Linked DNA regions of Homo sapiens: region 2 is linked to region 1. Evidence: fine-mapped expression QTL. A gene starts in region 1. The other region holds a variant in brackets. All regions are shown on one strand. Distances are from middle to middle.

Region 1 (2,748 bases):
AGGTCGCAGTGTCCGCAGTTTGAATGAGCTTTGAGGCCAGTTTTGTGGAGGCCCAACATGACGGTTGCTCTCCGGAGCCAGGCTCTCATGCTACCCTTTTGACCCACTGACTCCTTGAGGCATTGCCCTTCTCCAGAGCCTTAACCACGATGACAGACACCGGGCCAGTTATTCTCCCCGGCTGCCCAGGTGCACCAGCTCAGGGCCGCCTCTCCCCAGCTCCACTCAGCTATCCTGGTTTCCCTCCTCTCAGTTCCCTCTGAGGAGGGTCCCCACTCACCTCTCAGGAGTTGGGCTGCTGTGGGAGGCTGAGAGAAGCAGGCGGAGGGGATGCCGTAATTGGTCTTCAGCACCTCCAGAAGATCTGCTGTGTACCTGGCGAGACACCAGCCTGTGCTCAGAACCATGGGGGCTGGGGGAAGGGGGAGGGTTGCACACTGGACCCTCAACCACTCCTGAGTGCAGGACTTTGTCCATTTCCCCTCAGGGCCTCTTTCTCTCTCTTTCTTTCTTTCCTTCCTTCCTTCCTTTCACTCTCTCTTTCTCTTTCTCTCTCCCTTCCCCTTCCCCTTCTCCTTCCTTCCTTCCTTCTGCTCTCTCTTTCTCTTTCTCTCTTCCTTCCCCTTCTCTTTCCTTCCTTCCTTCCTTCCTTTTTCTTTCTTTTTTTTTCTTTTTGAGACAGGGTCTTGCTCTGTTGTCCAGGCTGGAGTGCAGTGGTCTGTCTTGGCTCATACAGGCAGCCTTGACCTCCTGGGCTCAAGTGATCTACTCAACCCCCATCCCCATGAGTAAGCTGGGACTACAGGTGCACGCCACCAGGCCCGGCTAATTTTTTATATTTTTGGTAGAGACAGGATTTCGCCATGTTGCTCAGACACTGGTCTCGAACTCCAGGACTCAAACTGGAACTGGGCTTAAACTCCTGGACTCCCGCCTCAGCCTCCCAAAGTGCTGGGATTACAGGCGCCCGGCCTCAGGGCCCTTTTCTTAGAGGGAGTGGAGAACTGGCCCAGGTGGGGGAGTAAGACAAGCTGCCACCTAGCCAGGCTGTGCCTGGCTGCCGTGCCTGAAGAGCCCACCGTGGATTCTCTCCATGCGGGTCGGGCAGCAGCCCAGGGACTGACCAGAGAGGAAGAGCAGGATCCCAGAGGAAGGGTGAGTCCTTACAGACGGACGGGCCCCCTGCTGCTGAGGGATGCTGCCATTTCCTCTGCGAATGCCTTCCACAGCCCCCGCTCTGCGACCTTTCTCTCCCCACGCTGGGGGGCAAGGCCGAGGCCCTGGAGTGTCACACCCTGGCCCAAACCCACGTTGTCCCTGAGGACCTAGGAACAGCTAGAGCATTTCCAGTCCTGTCTCATTCTGAGTGCGGCCGCCAAAGGGCTCTGGGAGGGAGAGAGGACAGGCCGCGGGATAGGGGCCACCGCTGCCCAGCGACTGGCCCAGGGCCCGCCGCCCTCACTTACCTGGGGTCAAGCTTTATCTGGGTCCTGCCCGGCTCCATCGCCGCGTTCTCTCCAGCAATCCCGCAGGCACCGGGGTGAGGAAGGGCAGGCGGGGCGGGCAGGTGGGGGCCGGGGGCAGGGTGGCTTGCCTGGGCCGGGGTGGGGGGCAAGCAGAATTGCAGAGTCTTCCCCTCTGCCGCTCTCCCTCCTTGAGCTTCCCGGGCCAACTTTCTATCTCAGAGTTCACCCCGGAGGAATTTGATCCTCTAGGCTGGCGGAGTTCCCTGTGCCTGACTCGTCCCTGCCCCCAGGTGTGGTCCCTCCCACCTCTTGGACAGGTGCCTTTGGCCACCCCTTGCCTCTGGCCCGGCCCATCCTATAGGATTTTGCTGCCAGTCTGCCCTGCCCTTCCAGGAGCCTTCTGGGGTGGGGTGGGCTCACCACGAAGCCCCTGCCCTGGGCCGGGGTGGGGACGAAGTCCTCGCTCCTCACCGCAGTGTTCCCTGGTCAGCGGCCCCTGAAGAACCTGCTGGAACTCAGGCTTGGGCACTCTGCAGCGGGGAGACTCAGGGCTGAGGCCTCGGCCGTGTTTGGTGCTGTCAGCCTGATGTGTGGAAGGGAGGACAGGCTGGAAAAGCCAGATGAGGCCGGTGTGGGTTTCCCAGACCCCAGTTCATCACATCTGGATGATGGGCTTAGCCACCCCCACGCTGGGCCGGAAGATGCTGTATTTAAGAGGCAGAGTTGCAGAGTGAGATTGCTGGGCATTTGACAGGTCTTGAAAACCTGCTGAATTACAGGCTTGCAAACGATTTTATTGGCTGATAGCTTCCCTTTTCTCTCTCTCCACATAGACTGAAATCTCTTCGAAGCCAGACACAGCATCTTGTACTGTGGTACGGTGGTACCTCTAGGTTCCTGGCACGCAGCCTGACACATACGAAGGGCCCCTTAGAATTTGGTTGCATAGCTGATGAAAGCAGCCAGCGTCTGTCAGCATGTCTGGTGTGCCAGGGCCCGCAGGACATGCAGTGTGTTCCTTAGCTTATTTAAACTTTACCACCGCGTTACAAGGGAAGTAGTATCCTTATTCCCATTTTACAGATAAGGAGGCTGAGGTCCAGAGAGGCTAAGAAACCAGGTCAGACAGAAAGCTGTGGGGTGTGGAGAGCGGCCAAAGGGGCCTGGGGGAGGGGCTCTGTTGGGGCATGGTGGAGATGGAGGTAGTGAGAAGAGGGCCCAGGAGAGGGTGCAGAGGGTCAATTCTGGGAAGGGAGAGGGGGCTTCCTGCGCTGGGCTGGTG
Region 2 (2,944 bases), 21 kb before region 1:
TAAAGAAGAAAGTGAAAGATGTGGAGGAAAAGTCAAAAGAATTTGTTCAGAAGGTGGAGGAAAAAAGCATTGACCTCATTCAGAAGTGGGAGGAGAAGTCCCGAGAATTCATTGGAAGTTTTCTGGAAATGTTTGGTCCGGAAGGAGCACTGGTATGTTCTTTCCCACTGGACAATGTAGGGAGTTCCATGTTGTGGAAAGAATGACAGAATCATTGAGCAGGAAGGGGCATCGACACTGAGAAGTTATCTAGTCTATCCCCTTATCTGGGCAGAACTATCTTTCAACTGTCCCCAGCAAGGTTTTTGAAACCTTTACAGAAAGACGTTACACATTCTCCTAGATAATTTTGCCAGCTCTCTCTCAACCTTAAAGTCTGGTGACAAGATAAGCAAGTCGCCTTGCCCAGCTTTTATCTGTGGTATGATTTTAGATAGAAGGAAAGGAAAGAATAAAGAACAATAAAAAGAAAGCAGCCTCCACTACAAGTAGCTGCAGCAGGAACCCCAGGTAAGGTGGGAATTCTGTCTTTGAGGAGTAGCAGTCTTTTCAACCAAATAAAAGATTGAGCAAGTGAGTCCTAGGTTAGATATCAGGAAGGATCTGTCTGTGAAGGTGTTTGGATAAATTAGAATAATCCTAGACTAGATTATTGAGGAAGAATGGGGAATTTCCCGGGTGATGACAGCAGGGGAGAACCCTTAAATAAATAGTACAGCATAGACTATCCCAGTCCTAGATGCTTCAGTGATGATTAAGTAGGATCCACGGTGTTTTTCTGACTCTTCCTTTCGGTTTCTGCAGAAACATATGCTGAAAGAGGGGAAGGGCCGGATGCTGCAGGCCATCAGCCCGAAGCAGAGCCCCAGCAGCAGCCCTACTCGCGAGCGCTCCCCCTCCCCCTCTTTCCGATGGCCCTTCTCCGGCAAGACTTCCCCACCTTGCTCCCCAGCAAATCTCTCCAGGCACAAGGCTGCAGCCTATGATATCAGTGAGGATGAAGAAGACTAATGTTTCCTCCCTCCTTTCCTGTCCTCCCTTTCTGTCCCATTACCTTCAGAAGCTCTCTGTTGAATTCCAAATTGTGACCCCAACACTAAACCTAAGGACAGCTACAAAGGAAAGACAACTGGGGAAAGAAGACCTAGGACTGGGGGAACCCAAACAGCCTGTCCTGCAAGTGACATCACTCACCCACACGAAGGAGGGGGACTGCACCTTAGAAGCCTGCTCTGCATCCATTTACCCCCCCCCAAGGGCTTTGTTTCACTGTTTATGTTCACGTGATCTCAACAGGGAAATTGTCATTTTCATTAATTTTTTAAAAAATTCGTCTTTCAAATGTAGAACTAATTTTTTGCCCCTGAGGAGTGGGCAGAAGAAGGAGGTAGTGTAATACGCAGAGGCCTTTTCTTCCCGGTATACTATAGCATTTGCCTTCCGTTCTGAAGCTA[T/A]GTGGCTTGCCAAGTCCTTCACGAAATGAGCCACGCTGATGGGTAATTTGTGGAGAAATATCTTAATTTTGATTTCCTTAAGGAAAAGCGAAAAGCAGAGTTACAGTCACAAATCCCCTGAACGTACTGCTGTCACCAGTGTCATTGTGGCTGCGGGAAGGAGATCTGAACCTAACTTTTCTTACTCCCTGAGGAGTTTCTTGTTGGACCCAATGGGGTCCATGAAGACACTGATGGGGATGGAAGCAGACCCATGGCATCAACTGCAGTGTTTCTGCTGTGTTCATCTTCTCAGAAAACTCTGTGACCCAGTTCTTTGGGAGCTTTTGTCAGTCTCTTTCGTGCCATCTACCTTCGAAGGAAGGAACACTTTTAGAGTTACAATGATGAGGAGAGGAGCGGGACAATACTCAATCCTATACCAAGTCGATTGAGATTAGTTTCCTACTGGGAGTAAGTGCCTGGCCCTGCTACTCCTATTTGAATGCTATTAATATTACCTAGCCTTTTACAAAGGATACTTTGTAAATGTCTGCTGTTGGAACTTGATGTTAATCCATTTTGGTCATAGCCATATTAGAGAGATTTGCACAGAATGTAAAGGCAAAAGCATAGGAAACACCTTCCTTTCTAAAGCAACAGCCTTATCACCTTGACCTCTGTCCCTCTTCAGAACATTCTTCCCTGGAACCAGTGCTCCACATCTTTCTTTTCCTCTGAGAGCTGCAGCTGGCAGGGACCTCCCTCTGCTGCTCCTCCAGCAAGCCACAGAGCATACCCTCACGTGACAAGAGTGTGGTAGGTTTTCTCCCCACTTTTCACACACGCCTGGTGGTTGTGGTTCCATCTGCCTTGTTGGCTTGCCCGGGGGGATTCAACACTTGACTTTCAAATCAAAGAATGCTAATGCTTAGCACTTGCTGTTGAGCATGCTCTAACTTTTAAAGCCCTGGCCTCCTGTCTCCTTAGCTGCTTAGCTACGCGGCCTAGCAGATCATCACCCATCAGTAATCCTGTGGCTAGATCCAGGGGAAAATTGCTTATGTCCAGGCCCCACCCCTGTCACTCATAAATACCCCTTGTGGGGGTGGAATTTTAGTGTTTTCAGCTAAGAAAACCACATTTTCTCTTTCCTTGCCTCTGCTAGGACTGTGAGCATCTCATAGTCCACTCCCTAAACACTTTCTGGTAACACCTAGTTTTCCGCCTGAGGGTCAGAGGCTAGAATCATTGCCTGCACAGCAGGACTACCTTGGTTCTTAAAACTTGGATCACCCAGGCAAGGCGTGGTGGCTCACGCCTGTCATCTCAGCACTTTGGGAGACTGAGGCTGGTGGATCACTTGAGGCCACGAGTTTGAGACCAGCCTGACCAACGTGGTGAAACCCCATCTCTACTAAAAATACAAAAATTAGCCAGGCGTGGTGGTGGGCACCTGTAATCCCAGCTACTTGGGAGGCTGAGGCAGGAGAATCCCTTGAACCCAGGAG

Evidence for each region. PIP is the estimated chance that this variant, and not a neighbour inherited with it, causes the effect.
Region 2: its variant is fine-mapped to the expression of SLC51A in tibial nerve (GTEx, PIP 0.93).

Annotation. Positions count from the first base shown.
Region 1 is chr3:196,215,469-196,218,216 of GRCh38, reverse strand. It overlaps SLC51A (solute carrier family 51 member A), which reads right to left and starts at 1,683. Exons shown (of 9, transcript NM_152672.6): 1 at 1,467-1,683; 2 at 281-375. The coding sequence starts at 1,504. All of the region lies in intron 2 of LOC105374304 (a long non-coding RNA gene), which reads left to right.
Region 2 is chr3:196,236,755-196,239,698 of GRCh38, reverse strand. PCYT1A (phosphate cytidylyltransferase 1A, choline) reads left to right here. Exons shown (of 9, transcript NM_001312673.2): 8 at 1-152; 9 at 805-2,944. The coding sequence ends at 1,011. Among named protein-coding and RNA genes, the nearest start is that of SLC51A, 22 kb to the right of the region's middle. The variant T/A (reference allele first, on the strand shown) is at 1,455.